Linked DNA regions of Homo sapiens: regions 2 and 3 are each linked to region 1. The links come from fine-mapping of genetic effects on gene expression. A gene starts in region 1. Each other region holds a variant in brackets. All regions are shown on one strand. Distances are between the middles of the regions.

The links. PIP is the estimated chance that this variant, and not a neighbour inherited with it, causes the effect. A credible set is the group of variants that fine-mapping cannot tell apart.
Region 2: its variant is the best candidate, but not a certain one, in a credible set for the expression of IGF1R in lung (TOPMed, PIP 0.69).
Region 3: its variant is the best candidate, but not a certain one, in a credible set for the expression of IGF1R in monocytes after LPS (Quach 2016, PIP 0.84).

What each region holds. Positions count from the first base shown.
Region 1 is chr15:98,644,879-98,651,411 of GRCh38, forward strand. It overlaps IGF1R (insulin like growth factor 1 receptor), which reads left to right and starts at 3,661. Exons shown (of 21, transcript NM_000875.5): 1 at 3,661-4,797. The coding sequence starts at 4,704. IRAIN (IGF1R antisense imprinted non-protein coding RNA) reads right to left here and starts at 5,909. Exons shown (of 1, transcript NR_126453.2): 1 at 985-5,909. RefSeq lists an enhancer at 1,763-2,384 and silencers at 2,396-2,445, 2,456-2,925, 2,986-3,045, 3,416-3,685.
Region 2 is chr15:98,958,899-98,966,310 of GRCh38, forward strand. It overlaps IGF1R (insulin like growth factor 1 receptor), which reads left to right. Exons shown (of 21, transcript NM_000875.5): 21 at 1-5,632. Among named protein-coding and RNA genes, the nearest start is that of PGPEP1L, 45 kb to the right of the region's middle. The variant G/T (reference allele first, on the strand shown) is at 3,296.
Region 3 is chr15:98,540,058-98,547,469 of GRCh38, forward strand. No RefSeq gene overlaps it. Among named protein-coding and RNA genes, the nearest start is that of IGF1R, 100 kb to the right of the region's middle. The variant C/A (reference allele first, on the strand shown) is at 4,008.

The DNA.
Region 1 (6,533 bases):
GTTGACATAATGCACTCTTAATGAAGCTTATTACCTGTGAAGTGAGGTCTTTTAAATTTTTTGTCTTTTGATTTTTGTCTTAAATTGCATCGATATTAGATGTGTGGACATTCTTCTGAAATATCTTAAGGATCAGACCTTGATTAACTGTGTTATTTTAGTAGATCTTTAATGCTTCTGAGTTATTTATACGGACAGCTCGAAATCTGAACGACTCCCATTGGAAAACCAGAATGATCTCTTTCATGGATCTCTCCCATATTTTTATTTATCTTCTTTAATGTTTTATACATACAAAAATATGTAGAACATGTGTTAGTTATTAAGCATACTTATAAAATGGAAATTTGTAAATCCGTCACTCAATCCAAGAGTGAACTCATTTCCAAATTACAATGGAAACCCATGTGCCTATGGGCTTCTCATCCTCTCCAAAGGAATTCACATCCTTCATTAATTCTTTTGCTAAAACAAAAGCAAAACAAAGGAAAAATATTATTTTATTATTTAAAGCAAAAAAAATTTTCTGTAACTTTTAAAGTTTTCCTTGCTTTTTAAGAGCTTTATCAAAATGGTGTTACGCTGTGTGCGTTTTTGATATTTGTATATTTTTACTCAGTGTGTTTCAAAGATCTGCCCATGTTGTGTGGGGCTGTAGTTTATTCACTTTTGCTGCTAACATTCCTTTCTGCGAATACATCACAATATACTGTATTACTTGATACTTGTCAATTGTTGTGCTGTTTCTCACGTTTGCACTTGATGTATATGATATACATTACATTTTTTGGGGAGTCTGGTACATTTAGCAGAATAATTTGAGATGAAACTGTTATCAAGTAAACGGCGTTTTTAAAAAATGAAAACAAGCAATCAGTTTCTGCTCCAAAAGAGGGAGAACCTATAAGATACCTGAGTAAAATGGTATAAAATAAAAAGTTTGGTGCATTGTCAATGTGGGTATAAAGCAAAGACTCCAATTAATTTTTGTCTACATGATTTTATTTCAAGGTTGAAAAAATAAGTTTGACTTGTGTATGTAAAATATAATCATTGAAGAAATACAAATCACCTCCTTTGTCCATGTGGTCAAGTTAGAGCGTAAAGACAACCTAAATTTTTGTTCCTTTTTTTTCCCTAAATATTAAGCTATATAATGATACATCTCCCACTTCACTGTTTAAAATAACTTAATACGATTGATTTCCTACTACTTCAGGAAAACACAAACATTTAAAAAATTCACAAATAAAAATCATTTTAGTAAAAAAAAAACACACAAAAACAAATCCTACAACCCCTACAACAACCTATATACATTTAAAAATTCTATAGACCTCTTTATGTTCTTGGGGACAAATAAACAGGCATATTTATTACTAATACTAAAAATACATTGGGTAGTATTTGAAGATTTTATATTAGCACTAGCCTTTTAAAAATCAGCTCTAAATTTTTGTCTTACAAGTATGTATTAAAAATTCTGAAATCAAGTATAATGAAATTATATATCAATATTCCTTTGCATTTAACTCCAGAGTGGATCTGCAGGAATCAAGACCAACCTCATGCAGAGAACTTAAGAAATATTTAAAAATTAGTAGACTGGACTTTAATTCTTCATGTGTAGTGCCTAATTTTTAAATAATACATTTTAAGATTCTAATAAATTTATTTCACTGTTAAATCTAGGAACATCCAAAACTGAAACTCTTTATTTAAAAATCAAGCTGAATTTCAGTTAAACAAAACCATCCCATCATATGAATAACTTTCTTAGGTAAAACAAGGTTTATTTTCTTTCTATACAACTGACTCTGAATTGAGCTAGAAATTTCCAAGGAGGAAAATGATCTAGGAAACAACTTTAGAAAAAAAGGGCTAAGTTTCCGTTATGATAGCTTTTGACTTGTTTTCAGCTCTTAAAAAATTATTTACGAACGATGGATACACGTTCTAATGCAGAAGTATTTTAGAATTAGAGAGTAAAAGAAACCTACTACCTTCCTTTACATCAGGTCCCTTCTACCATCCTACCCGATTGTTTGAGACAACCACTTCTTATCTCGACAATTCACAACTCTTTTATTAGCTATCTTAAAAAAATTTATTACTGGCATCAATTAGCCTGAGTCATGAAACCGGACCACATTAAGGGCGACACATGGTCCAATCACTGTTTGTAAAAGTCCACGTATTTCAAACTCCTCTCTCCTGCCACTGCTGGGCTGTTTCCCTCTTTGAGGACCTGGTCTCCGCAGCATTTATTCATTAGATGGCAGTCCTAGGGGAGTCTCGCTTTGGGGAAACCTCTCCTCCTGCACATTCAAGAAAACAACCGCGGAGACTTAGGGTCGGTACTGGTTTCCAGTCACTTACGTAGCAAACGAAGCAAGAGGAACGTGCCTGGGAGGACCCGAGACAGGTGCGGGTGGGTTTCCGCAGTAGCCGCTGATCCCGAGTGCATGCGGCGTGTTCCCGGGTCGGGACCGCGGCCAAGGGAGGCTTCCCGGCCCCAGCCTCCACCCCCTCCTCGGCGCCCCGGGACCCGGACACGCCCCCCGAGCTTCGGAGACCCGCAGCGTGCACGCGCCCCGGCCGCTCCCCGCAGCCGCCCACGTGGTGGAGCCCTGAGCTGCGCGAGGCCGCGGAGAGCGCTCAGGGCGGGCGGCTGGTCCGGGAGGCCACGCCAGCGCGACCCAGCCGAGTCGGCCCCCAGCCCGGGCCCCCACATTTCCTCCCCCGGAGGGAGGGAGGCGACTCTCCGCGGGCTGCCCTCCCCAGCGCCCGCCGCGCCCTCTGGCGGCCGCCGCGGGGACGCGCCCGGGGCACGCGGCGCTGCCTGTCTGGGCCCCCCTTCCGGGGCGCGGGGCCCGCGAGGGGCGGCGGGGTCCTCTCTCCTCGAGCCACTCTGGGCCGAGCCACACGGGCCGCGCCCTTCCCCCTCCGCTCCCCCTGAGCCCCCAAACTCCGGGCTCCACGGTCGCAACGCCGCGGGCACCCCAGCCTGGCGTGAAAGTGCCCGGCGTAGTAGCCTGGGGGGGGGGTCCCCTTTCTCCCAGGTGCGCCCCTTCCGCCACGTTCGGGCTTTCCAGTACGCAGCGAAAAAAATGCCGCATGCACGCATTTATTTATTTTGCAACAGCTGCAAGAAACAATGAAGCTTTTCAAGAACCGGGGAAACGCGCTTTCCAGCCGCGCTGTTGTTGTTTTCAATGAACCTCTCCCAGCCCCGCACTCCCCGCCCACCCCTCCCCTCTCCTGCCCACCCCTCCCCTGCCTAGCCTTTCCCTGGCTACCCACCCCTGCCCCGCCGAGACCGGACCGGCGGCGGGGGCATTGTTTTTGGAGTCGGGCGGGAGGGGAGGGCGCGTGCGGGGTGGCCGGCGCAGTGCGGTGGGGGCGGGAGCGGGTGGGCACGCGCGCGTGTCTCTGTGTGCGCGCGGGAGGCGGTGGGGCGGGAGATGGGGGCGGCGCCTCGCAGTCTCGCGCCCCACGCCCGGGCTCCGCTCCGCACGTCTTGGGGAACCGGGCTCCGGTTTTTTGCGCGCGCCGGCCTGGGCCGGGCCCTCGGCGCGCCGCTGCTGCGGCGGTGGCCGCTCGAGTGTGCGAGCGGGCGCGTGTGCGCGGGCCAGGGCGCGCGCGCGCGCGCGAGCCCCCAGTGTGTGGCAGCGGCGGCGGCGGCGCGGCGAGGCTGGGGCTCTTGTTTACCAGCATTAACTCCGCTGAGCGGAAAAAAAAAGGGAAAAAACCCGAGGAGGAGCGAGCGCACCAGGCGAACTCGAGAGAGGCGGGAGAGCGAGAGGGACGCCGCCAGCGAGCCTGCCCACGGCCGGCGCTCGCAGACCCTCGGCCCCGCTCCCCGGATCCCCCCGCGCCCTCCACGCCCCTCCCGCGCGGGGGCAGCTCCACGGCGCGCCTCGCCTCGGCTGTGACCTTCAGCGAGCCGGAGCCCCCGCGCAGAGCAGGCGGCGGCGGGCGGGGGCCGGGCGGGGGCCGGCGCGGGGCGGGCGGCGGCGCAGAGCCGGGCGGCGCGGCGGGAGTGCTGAGCGCGGCGCGGCCGGCCCGCCGCTTTGTGTGTGTCCTGGATTTGGGAAGGAGCTCGCCGCGGCGGCGGCGGCGCTGAGGGAGGAGGCGGCGGCGAGCGGAGCCAGGAGGAGGAGGAGGAGGGGGAGCCGCTCATTCATTTTGACTCCGCGTTTCTGCCCCTCGCCGGCCTCGCCTGTGACCCGGACTTCGGGGCGATCTTGCGAACTGCGTCGCGCCCTCCCGCGGCGGAAGCTCGGGCGTCCGGCCGCCTCCCGCGCGGCCAGGGCCGGGCTTGTTTTTCCTCGCCTAGGCAGATTTGGGCTTTGCCCCCTTTCTTTGCAGTTTTCCCCCCTTCCTGCCTCTCCGGGTTTGAAAATGGAGGCCGACGACGCCGACAGCCCGCCCCGGCGCGCCTCGGGTTCCCGACTCCGCCGAGCCCTGGGCCGCTGCTGCCGGCGCTGAGGGGCCGCCCCGCGCCGCCCGCCCCGTCCGCGCACCCGGAGGGCCCCGGCGGCGCCGCCTTCGGAGTATTGTTTCCTTCGCCCTTGTTTTTGGAGGGGGAGCGAAGACTGAGTTTGAGACTTGTTTCCTTTCATTTCCTTTTTTTCTTTTCTTTTCTTTTTTTTTTTTTTTTTTTTTTTTGAGAAAGGGGAATTTCATCCCAAATAAAAGGAATGAAGTCTGGCTCCGGAGGAGGGTCCCCGACCTCGCTGTGGGGGCTCCTGTTTCTCTCCGCCGCGCTCTCGCTCTGGCCGACGAGTGGAGAAAGTGAGTATGTGCCCGCCGCCCGCGGCCACTGCGGGAACTTTTCCTCCGAGGGGCTGCGCCCTGTTTGCGAAACCCGAGTTGCCACCGTCGCAGCTGTCGGGCCCCCGGGCTCGGGAGCGGCGGGGTGGGGCGCAGGGCGGCTCTGCCGGGAGGGAGGCTGCAGCGGACCCGGGACCCGGGCTCGTTCGTCTGGAGCCCCGCGGGCCCTGGCTCCGCGCATCCCCGCGCGGGAAGGGCTTTTCTCTTTCTCCGTCCTGACAGCCCAGCCGTGTTTCCCGGCTAGGCGCGAGGACTCGGTAGGGAAGTTGGTGCCGGGGCGGGCTCCGCGGTTCCCGGGCCCCGCGACCCGCACCTCGCCCCTTCCATGCGCAAGAGCCTCTCCGCACACAGCGCTGATCCCCTGCGGCGCGCAGGCAGCAGCGACAGCACCCTGGGCCGCACCGCGTCTCCGCTGCTGGGGCTGACCGGGCAGTGGGGAGCGGGCAGCCGCCCGGCCCGCGGGGTGCGAGTTGCCCTCGAGGGGGGAGGTGCCCTGCGGAGAGGCCCCGAAGCCCCAGGACACGTCTCCAAGCGCCCGTCGCTGCCTCCCGTCGCCCAACGTGCTTTTGCCCCTCGGGCTCCTCGGGTTCCTGGCCTTGCCCGTCACTTTGGCCCGCTCCTCGTTGGGTTACCTGCCCCCGGCGTCCCGGGGCTGGGCGGTGGGGTGAGGGGAAGCGCTCTCTGGGCAGCCCCCCGGGAAGTGCGAGGCCGGGAGTCTTCCTCAGCTTGTCTCTTCCGGGGAGCGCCACTGGGTCCCCAGTTCAGAGGGCTCTGGGATGGTCTCCCAGTTTCTCCCGGGCCGGGGGATGGAGGGGTACTAGGGCCGCATCCGAGTGTGCGTTGGTGGGTGTGTGGTCGGAGCCGACGTGCATTCCGACACACGTGCTCGCAGCGCGGGGTGTAGTCGCCGCCTCACGGGGACACCTAGACGCCCGTCCCTGGCGAGAGGTGTCGTACGCTGTGGTTTCAGCGCCAGGGTCTGCGGCGGCGCGGGGAGGGTGTTGTGTTTTGCGAGCGCGGAGCCCTGGCCTTGGTTTTGTTGTGGTCGGCGTCGTGTCGCCCTCTCTTCTGCCGCCCCGCACTTCCTTTGTACGTAGTTAATAAGCAGTGTCGCTCCACATTCGCTGTCTTTTGCAATCTGATAGCTTTTGTTTTGGTGGTGTCGGGTGGGGGTTAGTAGGGAAGCGCGGGGATGCGGGGAGCGAGAACTCCCCCCGGTGTCTACGGCCGGAGGAGGTGGGGGTTTTATTCTTCTGAAAAAGTTGAAAGTGTGGCTTACTGGTACATTCAAGATGGTAGGGTAATTTGAACACGATTAAAAGTTTAAATGTCGCAGAACTGGGACTGGGAACGGTGAGGGCGTGTTGGTGAGTAATGGTTGCCGAGGGTATGCAGGTGGTGCCGATTAACTTTGAAAAAATCACGACTGAGCCTTCACGAGTGAGGCGGGGAAGGAGGAGGCAGCGGAGGTTGTATGGCCCCATCACCGGGGCAATTCAGAAAGGCTGTTTCTATAAACAAATCCTTAAACGTCTGGTAAGAAATGAGTCCGCGACGGAACGAGAGCAGATCGTGGTTCGCGTGTTTACTGCCGAGTGGGACGCGGACTGGGGCCGGACCTTCCACAGATCTGGGCTCTCCTGCTCTTTGTTTTCTAAACTTTCAGCGGACTCGATTGGGCGAAAGCCTTCCGGCTC
Region 2 (7,412 bases), 310 kb after region 1:
TTATAAATACATCCCCCATCCCTGCTCCCACCTGCCCCTTTAGTTGTTTTCTAACCCGTAGGCTCTCTGGGCACGAGGCAGAAAGCAGGCCGGGCACCCATCCTGAGAGGGCCGCGCTCCTCTCCCCAGCCTGCCCTCACAGCATTGGAGCCTGTTACAGTGCAAGACATGATACAAACTCAGGTCAGAAAAACAAAGGTTAAATATTTCACACGTCTTTGTTCAGTGTTTCCACTCACCGTGGTTGAGAAGCCTCACCCTCTCTTTCCCTTGCCTTTGCTTAGGTTGTGACACACATATATATATATTTTTTTAATTCTTGGGTACAACAGCAGTGTTAACCGCAGACACTAGGCATTTGGATTACTATTTTTCTTAATGGCTATTTAATCCTTCCATCCCACGAAAAACAGCTGCTGAGTCCAAGGGAGCAGCAGAGCGTGGTCCGGCAGGGCCTGTTGTGGCCCTCGCCACCCCCCTCACCGGACCGACTGACCTGTCTTTGGAACCAGAACATCCCAAGGGAACTCCTTCGCACTGGCGTTGAGTGGGACCCCGGGATCCAGGCTGGCCCAGGGCGGCACCCTCAGGGCTGTGCCCGCTGGAGTGCTAGGTGGAGGCAGCACAGACGCCACGGTGGCCCAAGAGCCCCTTTGCTTCTTGCTGGGGGACCAGGGCTGTGGTGCTGGCCCACTTTCCCTCGGCCAGGAATCCAGGTCCTTGGGGCCCAGGGGTCTTGTCTTGTTTCATTTTTAGCACTTCTCACCAGAGAGATGACAGCACAAGAGTTGCTTCTGGGATAGAAATGTTTAGGAGTAAGAACAAAGCTGGGATACGGTGATTGCTAGTTGTGACTGAAGATTCAACACAGAAAAGAAAGTTTATACGGCTTTTTTGCTGGTCAGCAGTTTGTCCCACTGCTTTCTCTAGTCTCTATCCCATAGCGTGTTCCCTTTAAAAAAAAAAAAAAGGTATTATATGTAGGAGTTTTCTTTTAATTTATTTTGTGATAAATTACCAGTTTCAATCACTGTAGAAAAGCCCCATTATGAATTTAAATTTCAAGGAAAGGGTGTGTGTGTGTGTATGTGTGGGGTGTGTGTGTGTGAGAGTGATGGGACAGTTCTTGATTTTTTGGGTTTTTTTTCCCCCAAACATTTATCTACCTCACTCTTATTTTTTATATGTGTATATAGACAAAAGAATACATCTCACCTTTCTCAGCACCTGACAATAGGCCGTTGATACTGGTAACCTCATCCACGCCACAGGCGCCACACCCAGGTGATGCAGGGGGAAGCCAGGCTGTATTCCGGGGTCAAAGCAACACTAACTCACCTCTCTGCTCATTTCAGACAGCTTGCCTTTTTCTGAGATGTCCTGTTTTGTGTTGCTTTTTTTGTTTTGTTTTCTATCTTGGTTTCCACCAAGGTGTTAGATTTCTCCTCCTCCTAGCCAGGTGGCCCTGTGAGGCCAACGAGGGCACCAGAGCACACCTGGGGGAGCCACCAGGCTGTCCCTGGCTGGTTGTCTTTGGAACAAACTGCTTCTGTGCAGATGGAATGACCAACACATTTCGTCCTTAAGAGAGCAGTGGTTCCTCAGGTTCTGAGGAGAGGAAGGTGTCCAGGCAGCACCATCTCTGTGCGAATCCCCAGGGTAAAGGCGTGGGGCATTGGGTTTGCTCCCCTTGCTGCTGCTCCATCCCTGCAGGAGGCTCGCGCTGAGGCAGGACCGTGCGGCCATGGCTGCTGCATTCATTGAGCACAAAGGTGCAGCTGCAGCAGCAGCTGGAGAGCAAGAGTCACCCAGCCTGTGCGCCAGAATGCAGAGGCTCCTGACCTCACAGCCAGTCCCTGATAGAACACACGCAGGAGCAGAGTCCCCTCCCCCTCCAGGCTGCCCTCTCAACTTCTCCCTCACCTCCTTCCCTAGGGGTAGACAGAGATGTACCAAACCTTCCGGCTGGAAAGCCCAGTGGCCGGCGCCGAGGCTCGTGGCGTCACGCCCCCCCCGCCAGGGCTGTACCTCCGTCTCCCTGGTCCTGCTGCTCACAGGACAGACGGCTCGCTCCCCTCTTCCAGCAGCTGCTCTTACAGGCACTGATGATTTCGCTGGGAAGTGTGGCGGGCAGCTTTGCCTAAGCGTGGATGGCTCCTCGGCAATTCCAGCCTAAGTGAAGGCGCTCAGGAGCCTCCTGCTGGAACGCGACCCATCTCTCCCAGGACCCCGGGGATCTTAAGGTCATTGAGAAATACTGTTGGATCAGGGTTTTGTTCTTCCACACTGTAGGTGACCCCTTGGAATAACGGCCTCTCCTCTCGTGCACATACCTACCGGTTTCCACAACTGGATTTCTACAGATCATTCAGCTGGTTATAAGGGTTTTGTTTAAACTGTCCGAGTTACTGATGTCATTTTGTTTTTGTTTTATGTAGGTAGCTTTTAAGTAGAAAACACTAACAGTGTAGTGCCCATCATAGCAAATGCTTCAGAAACACCTCAATAAAAGAGAAAACTTGGCTTGTGTGATGGTGCAGTCACTTTACTGGACCAACCCACCCACCTTGACTATACCAAGGCATCATCTATCCACAGTTCTAGCCTAACTTCATGCTGATTTCTCTGCCTCTTGATTTTTCTCTGTGTGTTCCAAATAATCTTAAGCTGAGTTGTGGCATTTTCCATGCAACCTCCTTCTGCCAGCAGCTCACACTGCTTGAAGTCATATGAACCACTGAGGCACATCATGGAATTGATGTGAGCATTAAGACGTTCTCCCACACAGCCCTTCCCTGAGGCAGCAGGAGCTGGTGTGTACTGGAGACACTGTTGAACTTGATCAAGACCCAGACCACCCCAGGTCTCCTTCGTGGGATGTCATGACGTTTGACATACCTTTGGAACGAGCCTCCTCCTTGGAAGATGGAAGACCGTGTTCGTGGCCGACCTGGCCTCTCCTGGCCTGTTTCTTAAGATGCGGAGTCACATTTCAATGGTACGAAAAGTGGCTTCGTAAAATAGAAGAGCAGTCACTGTGGAACTACCAAATGGCGAGATGCTCGGTGCACATTGGGGTGCTTTGGGATAAAAGATTTATGAGCCAACTATTCTCTGGCACCAGATTCTAGGCCAGTTTGTTCCACTGAAGCTTTTCCCACAGCAGTCCACCTCTGCAGGCTGGCAGCCGAATGGCTTGCCAGTGGCTCTGTGGCAAGATCACACTGAGATCGATGGGTGAGAAGGCTAGGATGCTTGTCTAGTGTTCTTAGCTGTCACGTTGGCTCCTTCCAGG[G/T]TGGCCAGACGGTGTTGGCCACTCCCTTCTAAAACACAGGCGCCCTCCTGGTGACAGTGACCCGCCGTGGTATGCCTTGGCCCATTCCAGCAGTCCCAGTTATGCATTTCAAGTTTGGGGTTTGTTCTTTTCGTTAATGTTCCTCTGTGTTGTCAGCTGTCTTCATTTCCTGGGCTAAGCAGCATTGGGAGATGTGGACCAGAGATCCACTCCTTAAGAACCAGTGGCGAAAGACACTTTCTTTCTTCACTCTGAAGTAGCTGGTGGTACAAATGAGAACTTCAAGAGAGGATGTTATTTAGACTGAACCTCTGTTGCCAGAGATGCTGAAGATACAGACCTTGGACAGGTCAGAGGGTTTCATTTTTGGCCTTCATCTTAGATGACTGGTTGCGTCATTTGGAGAAGTGAGTGCTCCTTGATGGTGGAATGACCGGGTGGTGGGTACAGAACCATTGTCACAGGGATCCTGGCACAGAGAAGAGTTACGAGCAGCAGGGTGCAGGGCTTGGAAGGAATGTGGGCAAGGTTTTGAACTTGATTGTTCTTGAAGCTATCAGACCACATCGAGGCTCAGCAGTCATCCGTGGGCATTTGGTTTCAACAAAGAAACCTAACATCCTACTCTGGAAACTGATCTCGGAGTTAAGGCGAATTGTTCAAGAACACAAACTACATCGCACTCGTCAGTTGTCAGTTCTGGGGCATGACTTTAGCGTTTTGTTTCTGCGAGAACATAACGATCACTCATTTTTATGTCCCACGTGTGTGTGTCCGCATCTTTCTGGTCAACATTGTTTTAACTAGTCACTCATTAGCGTTTTCAATAGGGCTCTTAAGTCCAGTAGATTACGGGTAGTCAGTTGACGAAGATCTGGTTTACAAGAACTAATTAAATGTTTCATTGCATTTTTGTAAGAACAGAATAATTTTATAAAATGTTTGTAGTTTATAATTGCCGAAAATAATTTAAAGACACTTTTTTTTTCTCTGTGTGTGCAAATGTGTGTTTGTGATCCATTTTTTTTTTTTTTTTTTAGGACACCTGTTTACTAGCTAGCTTTACAATATGCCAAAAAAGGATTTCTCCCTGACCCCATCCGTGGTTCACCCTCTTTTCCCCCCATGCTTTTTGCCCTAGTTTATAACAAAGGAATGATGATGATTTAAAAAGTAGTTCTGTATCTTCAGTATCTTGGTCTTCCAGAACCCTCTGGTTGGGAAGGGGATCATTTTTTACTGGTCATTTCCCTTTGGAGTGTAGCTACTTTAACAGATGGAAAGAACCTCATTGGCCATGGAAACAGCCGAGGTGTTGGAGCCCAGCAGTGCATGGCACCGTTCGGCATCTGGCTTGATTGGTCTGGCTGCCGTCATTGTCAGCACAGTGCCATGGACATGGGAAGACTTGACTGCACAGCCAATGGTTTTCATGATGATTACAGCATACACAGTGATCACATAAACGATGACAGCTATGGGGCACACAGGCCATTTGCTTACATGCCTCGTATCATGACTGATTACTGCTTTGTTAGAACACAGAAGAGACCCTATTTTATTTAAGGCAGAACCCCGAAGATACGTATTTCCAATACAGAAAAGAATTTTTAATAAAAACTATAACATACACAAAAATTGGTTTTAAAGTTGACTCCACTTCCTCTAACTCCAGTGGATTGTTGGCCATGTCTCCCCAACTCCACAATATCTCTATCATGGGAAACACCTGGGGTTTTTGCGCTACATAGGAGAAAGATCTGGAAACTATTTGGGTTTTGTTTTCAACTTTTCATTTGGATGTTTGGCGTTGCACACACACATCCACCGGTGGAAGAGACGCCCGGTGAAAACACCTGTCTGCTTTCTAAGCCAGTGAGGTTGAGGTGAGAGGTTTGCCAGAGTTTGTCTACCTCTGGGTATCCCTTTGTCTGGGATAAAAAAAATCAAACCAGAAGGCGGGATGGAATGGATGCACCGCAAATAATGCATTTTCTGAGTTTTCTTGTTAAAAAAAAATTTTTTTAAGTAAGAAAAAAAAAGGTAATAACATGGCCAATTTGTTACATAAAATGACTTTCTGTGTATAAATTATTCCTAAAAAATCCTGTTTATATAAAAAATCAGTAGATGAAAAAAATTTCAAAATGTTTTTGTATATTCTGTTGTAAGAATTTATTCCTGTTATTGCGATATACTCTGGATTCTTTACATAATGGAAAAAAGAAACTGTCTATTTTGAATGGCTGAAGCTAAGGCAACGTTAGTTTCTCTTACTCTGCTTTTTTCTAGTAAAGTACTACATGGTTTAAGTTAAATAAAATAATTCTGTATGCATTTCTGTCTCTGGTTTGGTTTTGTCCCTCCTGGAAGCATCACTACACTTTGGTGGCAGGGAAGCTGAGCTATGTGGGGCACGTGTGTTCACGCATGTTGCCTGGAAGCGTTCTCCAGAAAAGCATTGCCTCTTCTCTGACAGCTGAGCTTTCTCAGCATGCAGATTGCCAGTAAAGACGACAGGGAAGCTATCTGTTTCTCCCTCCATTAAATCATCTGGAAAGAAATTTGAATACATAAATTACGAAACTCTGTACTGCAGTTCCGACTGATTTGTAGACTTTTTTCCTATACCTTCCACTAACAACAGTCAGGCCAAGGCAAGTCTGATCTGCATGACCCCAAGGCAGAGGACTTCAGTTCTTCACATTTCCCATGTGCTTTTTGGTCTTTCACAGCTGACATGCCCACCTCGGGGGGATGCTGGTGAGAACCCAGTGGGCCTCACGCAGAATGTGGGTCACTGGAGGAGCTCCAAAGTCCTAGTTACTTTCTAGCTGCTGCTCAGTGATCTCTGTCTGCCCCTAGGGACCCTACAATGTAAACATTATTTTTGTCAGGGGAAATGGCATGTATGGCAAGGTGTGTTCTAGAATCAGACTAAGGATTCAGACACATCAGGCAGAGAAGCTGGTCATTTCCTTCAACTTTATCATGGGAAATTATGCTCCAATAGCAAAATCGGGCCAGTAGAAGAAGAGCTGTCCAGCAATGTATAGGTAGAAGTAAACCGAAGACCATGGTTACTTCAGACCTGTTGAGCCTCAGAAGTGTTTGCACCTAAAAGCAAAGGCCTTTCTGAAAGGGGACTCTCAGCTGGGGTGCGGTGGCTCACGCATGTAATCCCAGCACTTTGGGAGGCTGAGGTGGGTGGATCACATGAGGTCAGGAGTTCAAGACCAGCCTGGCTAACATGGTAAAACCCCATCTCTACTAAAAATACAAAAAATTAGTGGGACATGGTGGCGGGTGCCTGTAATCCCAGCTACTTGGGAGGGTGAGGCAGGAGAATCTCTTGAACTCAGGAGGCAGAAGCTGCAGTGAGCCAAGATTGTGCCACTGTACTGCAGCCTGGGTGACAGAGTAGGACTCTGTCTCAAAAAGGGTACTCAAGCTTGGCATTGCTTCAGGGTTACTGCTCAGTGTTGTCACCGAGTGCCTGGCACTCAGGGGATCTTCATTAGGTGACTGATGATGAGGAGGTCTCAATTCTGAGGCTGGAAAGCCCAACAGGGCCTCCTCCTTCCCTGGTCAGGTAGATGCTGCCCTTCCAGGTTGCCACAGTGCAGTCTGCACTTGGCCTGCCCAGCCAGAAGGAGCAGCAATATCTAAGGATGAAGGTGCTGGGTCTTCAGAAGCATTAGAACCTTTCCCCTCCAGGCCATTTCTTAAGACTGCAAGCCCTCAAGAGCTATTTCTGCATTTACCCCCCAAGTCCAGGTATGAGTCCATACTCACTCAGATGTGTGATTTTTGTAGTGTTCTAATGTTGCTAAAAAGACCTTCACATCCATTCTCTCACCAGATGTTCACAATCACCCTGCAAAGGAAGGATTTTAATTACTCTTACAGATGAGCAAACATACAGGCATGCTCAAGACCCCTCCCCCGCCCCCCCACCTCCCCACCAGCTACCAACTCAGGACTCAGCCTCTCAGCCTTTTCTGCTGTGGTTCTCAATCTGGCTTCAGCACTGCCAGAACTAAGCAGGCTCTGTGCATACTGACAAGGGATGCTGGGTGAAGTACACAGCCCAGGTGTGAATGAGACTTCTGGGGTT
Region 3 (7,412 bases), 100 kb before region 1:
GTAGAGACAGGGTTTCACCATGTTGGCCAGGCTGGTCTCAAACTCCTAGCCTCAGGTGATTCGCCTACCTCAGCCTCCCAAAGTGCTGGGATTACAGGCATGAACCACTGTACCCGGCCACTTTTTTTTTTTTTTTTTTTGAGAGAGGGTCTTGCTTTCATGCCCAGGCTGGAGTGCAGTGGCTCCATCACAGCTCACTGTAACCTCGAACTCCTGCGCTCAAGCAATCTTCCTGCCTCAGCCTCCTGAGTAGATAGGACTACAGGTGTGCACCACCACACCCAGCTAATTTTTAAAATTGTTTGGTAAAGACAGGGTCTCATTATGTTGCCCACGCTGGGCTCTTAAATTTATAAAAGATGTTTGATGAAGAAAGTTTCAGAACACCCTACAGGTGTCTGGACAAACGTAGCTCATGGAAAGACAAAATGGTTCCACTCTTGTGGAGGGCAATCTGGTACTTAAACATTTATCAGAATGGCTAATGTACTACTGTTGCCCGGTGATCCCACCTCTGGGAATTCAGTCACAGCTGCACATGGACAAAATTATGCATGAACAAGATCCATCATCGTAACATTATCACAAGGAGGAATATTGGAAACATCTCAAGTGTCCATCAATGGGACAGCGGTTAAATAAACCTTGTAACACTATGCAACTGTCAGAAAAAATGAATGAGGGGTGTTCTGTATCCTAATAAGGAAAATTCTCCATAGTATAGTCAGGGGGGAAAGCAAGTCTTAGAATAGTATGCTATCTTTTCTGAAAGAAAAGGGAGACATAAGATTGCATATTCATGTTGGCATGTATTTGCATAAACAACACAAGAATAATACACAGGAAACTAATAAAAGTGGTTATGGGGATGTGGGATGGAACAGAGTAGCCAGCGGTGGGGCAAGGACTGAGACTTTTGGTCTGCATCTGGTCCCGAAGGGGAATCCAAAGTCTTCCCAGAGGAACCAAGTGGATGAATTAAATTTCAAATTAAAAAAAAAACAACAGGGTTGGGCGTGGTGATGGTGGCTCACACCTGTAATCCTAGCACTTTGGGAGGCTGAGGCAGGAGGATCATTTGAGACCAGGAGTTCAACACCAGCCTGGCCTCAATATCAAATAGTGAGACCCCCGTCTCTACAAAAATAAAGAAATTAACCTGGCGAGGTGGTGAACCTATAGTCCCAGGTACTTGAGAGGCTGAGAGGGGAGGATCACCTGGGCCCAGGAGTCGGAGGCTGTAGTGAGTTGTAATCACACCACTGCACTCCAGGCTGGGCGACAGAGCAAGACCTTGTTTCTAAAAACAAACAAACAAATAAACAAAACAATAAAAACAACCAAGCAAGCAATCAAATTTAAAAAAGAAAAAGTCAGTAGGAAGAAATTCAAATGAGAAAGAACTTGCTCTGAATGTCTGCTCCATCCTCCAGATCTTTAATCTGAGTTCCATCCCTCATTCTGTCAAAACTCCACAAGGAGTTCCAAGTTTGGGGTTGGTGATTCCTGAGAAAATCGGTTACAGCTGATTTGCAGGTTTAGCATGGCTATTTGTGCAGTCTAAACGTCCAAGCCAGATTTCTACAAGACAGTAAGATTACACCACAACGGCGGGAGCACACGTATATGTCTCTCCTATTTCTGATGTTATGTTGTAAATATTTAAAATAAAGCAATCCAGCCGGGCGCGGTGTCTCATGCCTGTAATCCCAGCCCTTTGGGAGGCCGAGACGAGTGGATCACTTGAGGGCAGGAATTCGAGACCAGCCTGGCCAACATGATGAAATCCCGTCTCTATTAAAAATACAAAAATTCGTCAGGCGTGGTGGAGTGCACCCTGTAGTCCCAGCTACTCAGGAGGCTTGCTTGAGAATTGCTGGAGCCCGGGAAGTGGAGGTTGCAGTGAGCAGAGATCGCGCCACTGCACTCCAGCCTAGGCAACAGAGAGAGATTCCGTCTCAAAAAAAACAAAAATAAAAATAAATAAATAAATATCTAAAAATAAAAATAAAATAAAGCAATCCTTATGATGTTTTAAAAGACTATGAAAGGTGTATTTACAGGGTAGTTCCTGCCGTGTTTTCTGAGCCGGTATCGCAGGGAAGGCTCTGCGTCAGACCTCAGGGCCCCCTTGCTACTAGGAGAACCAGCAAAGTCCCCGTGGGCTGGGTCTTCCCCGGCATGCTCAAGCCACTCACCTTCATATTCTGTGCCCTGGCCACGCAGGTCTGTTGATTTCTTGCCTTCACCTCTGCTCTGCTAGATACTGTTCACGCTGTTGTCTCCCTTCCCTCACTACCTGACAAGTTGACTTCTGTCCACACCTCAGGTCCCAGCTGAAGAGCCTCTCTTCACACAAAGCACACCTGTGGTTGCCAGGGCCTGGGGTGGGGGTCCTGGAAAATGACTGCTCAGCGGGACAGAATTTCTTTCTGGGTTGATAAAAATGTTCTGAAATTAGATAGTACTGATGGTTATAAAACTCTGTGAACTGCAAAACTTTAAGAGGTGAATTTTATAGTATGTAAATAATACTAAATCATTCTTTAAAAATCCCTTCTTAACCGGATGCAATGGCTCACACCTGTGGTCTTAGCTACTTAGGAGGCCGTGGTCGGAGGATTGCTTGAGGCCAGGAGTTCAAGATCAGCCTGGGCAACATAGTAAGATCTCCCATCTCTACCAAAAAAAAAAACCATTAAATTAAATTAGCTGGGCATTAGTGGCATGCACCTATAGTCCCAGCTACTCAGGAGGCTGAAGTGGGAGGATCACCTGAGCCCAGGAGTTTGAGGCTGCAGAGAGCTATGATTGCACCACTGCACTCCAGCCTAGGTGACAGAGCCCTGTTTAAAAAAAAAAAAAAAAAAAATCCCTTCTTCAAGGAAGTCCTCCTAGGTGCACCTGGACCCTCTACCTCAGAGGACCCTGTGACATCCATTACAGCAGATACCACAATTATAGAGAGTAATGGTGTTACTGGTTACTAAATGCAGTAGGATACTGAGAGCATGGTAGGAGGGGTACACTGGCAATAATTTAAAAACAAGAATAAAACAAACCAAAAATTGATCTTCTCTTTACCATGCCATGCCCTGGCAGTTCTAAATAACATCAGTGATAAAAGTCACCTCCCCTCCTCAAATATTCTTTGGTTTAAGTTCTAAACAATTGCAGGGACTACTGTTGAGTTTGAGTGATATGCATGTAAGCTTCAAATTAACACATTCTAATTACTTATCCTTTAATAAGCATTATCATTCTACATGTAACTTAATTCAGAAAATTCCTAATTACAGCCAGTCCTCCACAGATGAACCCAAGCAATAGGGTTTGTTTGTTTGTTTTTGAGATGTTTGTTACTATAACAATGTGGAGTGGCTCAGCTAGCATTTCCCGCCCTGTGATACTATTTATGCCTGCTGCCTTTAAAGTGTAGAATCAAAGTAAACACTGATAGCACACTGATAATGGAGAAAGAAAACAGAATTTGATGTAGCTCAATTCTCTCACTCTATGTAACTGTGTGAGTTTTGATTTGTGTTTTAAAATTTGAAACAGTGAAACAGTGAGAAGTACAAGGTGTAATATTTTTGTTTGATGAATGCAAATTTTAGTCCATGCATAAAATATTTGACTAAATTTGACACTTAAGTTTATTCTTTTCTTCTAATTGTTGTTGGTTTTAAACTAAAGGACAAGGCCGGGCACAGTGGCTCACTCCTGTAATCCCAGCACTTTGGGAGGCCAAGGCAGGCGGATCATGAGGTCAGGAGATTGCGACCACCCTGGCTAACACAGTGAAACCCCATCTCTATTAAGAAATACAAAAAATTAGCCGGATGTGGTGGTGGGCGCCTGTAATCCCAGCTACTCAGGAGGCTGAGGCAGTAGAATGGTGTGAACCTGGGAGGCAAAGCTTGCAGTGAGCAGAGATAGTGCCACTGCACTCCAGCCTGGGCAACAGAGCGAGACTCTGTCTCAAAACAAAACAAAACAAAACAAAA[C/A]AAAACTAAAGGACAAATTTTAAAAAATTGTTACATTAGTAATTGACTAAACTCTACCTTTTACACAATTTGGTTTTATTAAAATTCACTTACTAGTTACTGAACACTTACATAAAATAATATTACATGAGACTGTAACCAAAATATCAACGTTTAATCTTTAGTAAATATAAAACTGATTGAATAGCTGGATTGAGTTTTTTCCCTTTTTTTGCATGATAACTTATTTTTATTCATTTTATTGACAAGATTATGTAAAGATTCAATATAAGGAAATTTCCAGTGTTTGCATTTATTTTCTATTTTTGTTATTAATTTTGTTATGATTATTGCTAAAAAATAATTTAAGCATATAGAGATTATTTTCTAACACTCCCTTTATTAAACTGTAATATTCATGAAGAATATATTAATGAGCTACAAACATGCTTTACATTTCTAAATATTCTTAATGTATATCAAATACATAATAAGTACGTATATTTTGAAGAATATTCATATTCATTTAAAATATCTAAAAACTGGTTTAATGCAAGGCTTTGGTAAATTGCTAAGTTTGGTGAATTGTTTGGTGATTTAGCCATTCAGTGATTTGTTTTTTGCCCCGTGAGACAGATAGTTTTATCATTACTTCCAAGGGAAAACTGAGGTATAAGGTATGTAAACTATTTGTCCATGGTCAGAAAACCAGTAAGAAGAGCTATGATCTCAATCAAGATCTTCTGATTCTAGCCATTATACTATATTGCTTCCTCACATACCTCCCATTAAAACTAAAGTTGACCATGAAATACCATCCAGCTATAACTTCACCAGAAATGCTGCCTCGGTGAGAATGAATAGCCACATGGGACTACAGACCCCCGTCTACACACCTATGAGTCCAGCTCCCACTTCAGCCTAGTCATCAAGAATTAGAGATCACACGGAGGCAACCCATCAAATGCCCATCAAGTGTCCAAAGTGGTTCACTGGGTCCATGTTCTGAGCCAGGTTTTTGATCATGTTAGGTTCATTCCTGCCTCAGGGCCTTTGCACACACAGTTTTTGTTGTTGTTGTTGTTGTTTTGGTTGTTTTTGTTTTTGAGATGGAATCTTGCTCTGTCACCCAGGCTGGAGTGCAGTGGCATGATCTCGGCTCACTGCAACCTCTGCCTCCTGGGTTCAAGTGATTCTCCTGCCTCAGCCTCCTGAGTAGCTGGGACTACAGGAACACGCCACCATGCCTGGCTAATTTTTGTATTTTTAGTAGAGACAGGGTTTCACCTTATTGGCCAGGCTGGTCTGAAACTCCTGACCTTGTGATCTGCCCACCTGGGCGTCCCAAAGTGCTGGGATTATAGGTGTGAACCACCGCACCCGGCCTGTTTTGTTGTTTTGTTTGGGCCTGGCTTTCCCCTCTGGCTTTTGAAATAACTCTTCCTCATGTTACCTCCTCAGAGAGGCTTTCCTTGACTACAATATCTAAAGTTACTCCTCCCAACCACTAACCATTGTCCTAGTGCTTTGTATTATTTCTATGCACCATTCATCCATCTATATTTCTTTCTTTCTCTTTTCTTCTATGTTATCAGCGACTTGTATAGAATAGATTCCTAATAAGTATTTATTAAGTTATTGAAAGAATGAGGCCAGGCACAGTGGTTCATGCCTGTAATCCCAGCAATTTGGGAGGCTGAGGCAGGCAGATCTCTTGATGCCAGGAGTTGGGATATCAGCCTGGGCAACGTGGCGAAACCCTGTCTCTACCAAAAAATACACAAATTAGCTGGGTGTGATGGTGTACGCCTGTAGTCCAGCTACTAGGGAGGCTGAGGTGGGAGAATCACTTGACCTCAGGAGGCGGAGGTTGCAGTGAGCTACAGTGGTGCCACTGTACTCCAGCCTGGATGACAGAGAGAGACCCTGTCTAAAAAAAAAAGGAAGAAAAGCATGAAGAGATTAATCACAGTGCTAAGGACTCCTCTGAGGTCACATCCAGGCTCAGTGGGGCAGAGCACTGAGAAATGAGCCTGTGCTGTCATACGTAGGATGTGGGGAGGCCTGGCTCACCAGCACCTGAGAACCCTGACTTCCATATTATCCATAACGGGGGTACAGGCTAGGGCTTTCCCCCATCAGCACCCAGCAACACACTACCATCTATCCATTCACAGGTGGGAGTCTCCAGGAGGGGAAGCAGGTAAGGCACAGGCAGGGCCCTGCGCAGGTGGAGACTGGTTTTGTGTCTGGGGTTTGTTCCTTCTGGTGGGTTCCTGGTCTCGCTGCCTTCAAGAATGGAACCGCAGACCTTCACAGTGAGTGTCACAGCCCTTACAGATGGCACAGACCCAAACAGTGAGCAGCCGCAAGACTTAATGTGAAGAGCAAAAGAACAGATATCCCACAACATGCAACGGGACCCAAGCAGGTTGCCTCTGCTGGCTGGGGGGTAGCCAGCTTTTATTCCCTTATCTGTCCCCGCCCATGTCCTGCTGATTGGTCCATTTTACAGAGTGCTGATTGGTCCATTTTACAAACCTCTAGCTACAGAGCGCCTATTGGTGCATTTTTACAGAGCACTGATCGGTGCATTTTACAAACCTCTAGCTAGCTACAGAGCGCCCATTGGTGCGTTTTACAATCCTCTTGTAAGATATAAAAGTTCTCCAAGTTGCCACCCGACCCAGAAGTCCGGCTGGCTTCACCTCTCAGTTTCGTGTTCTACTCCAATACCATCTGTACACCTTCATGCGGGGATTAGGGATTTGACAGGTGAATAGGTTACTCAATAGCGTTCAGAGTTCATAAACCAAGACTCTACCTGCTTCCCACAGCCTGCGTTCATGGGAAAGAGGCAAGAAAATAAAACCAGCCTCAGCTATATCGAATCCTTTCCTTCCCCTCCCAAGTCATTAACAAAGACTGACACTGTAGTATTTATCAAAAAATCTTGTTCCCTAAGTGGTGATACAGAATAATTATCTCAGCATGCAATCAGCTCAGCGATCTTCTTCAAAGCAATTTGTGGCAAGGATATGCAGTTTTTAAATAGATTAAATTTTCAAGAGCTTGCCTCTGAAACCTGGTCAGAATGTATTTACAACTCACCTGGTGAGATGATGCGTATCTTAAGCTGGAATTCTCTTTCGTTAGGTCTTGCTTAATTGAATCAAGCAAAGTCATTTTGGGATCGTCCCAAAAGAAACCCTTTTATCTCAAGGCAAATGTGTTTTAACAAGGCCCTAAGGTGAATAAAAGCTAGGTTTCCACTCACCGGAGCTCTCTGCTCCTCCTTTCAAAAGCCTACCACTCTACTTCATTTGTTTTTCTTTTAAGTGAGGAAATTGCTTATGGAGTTAACTGTTGCCAGTGAAAGCAACAAGTTGCCTCTCCCCTCCTCTACTCTTAAGAAACACCTTGTTT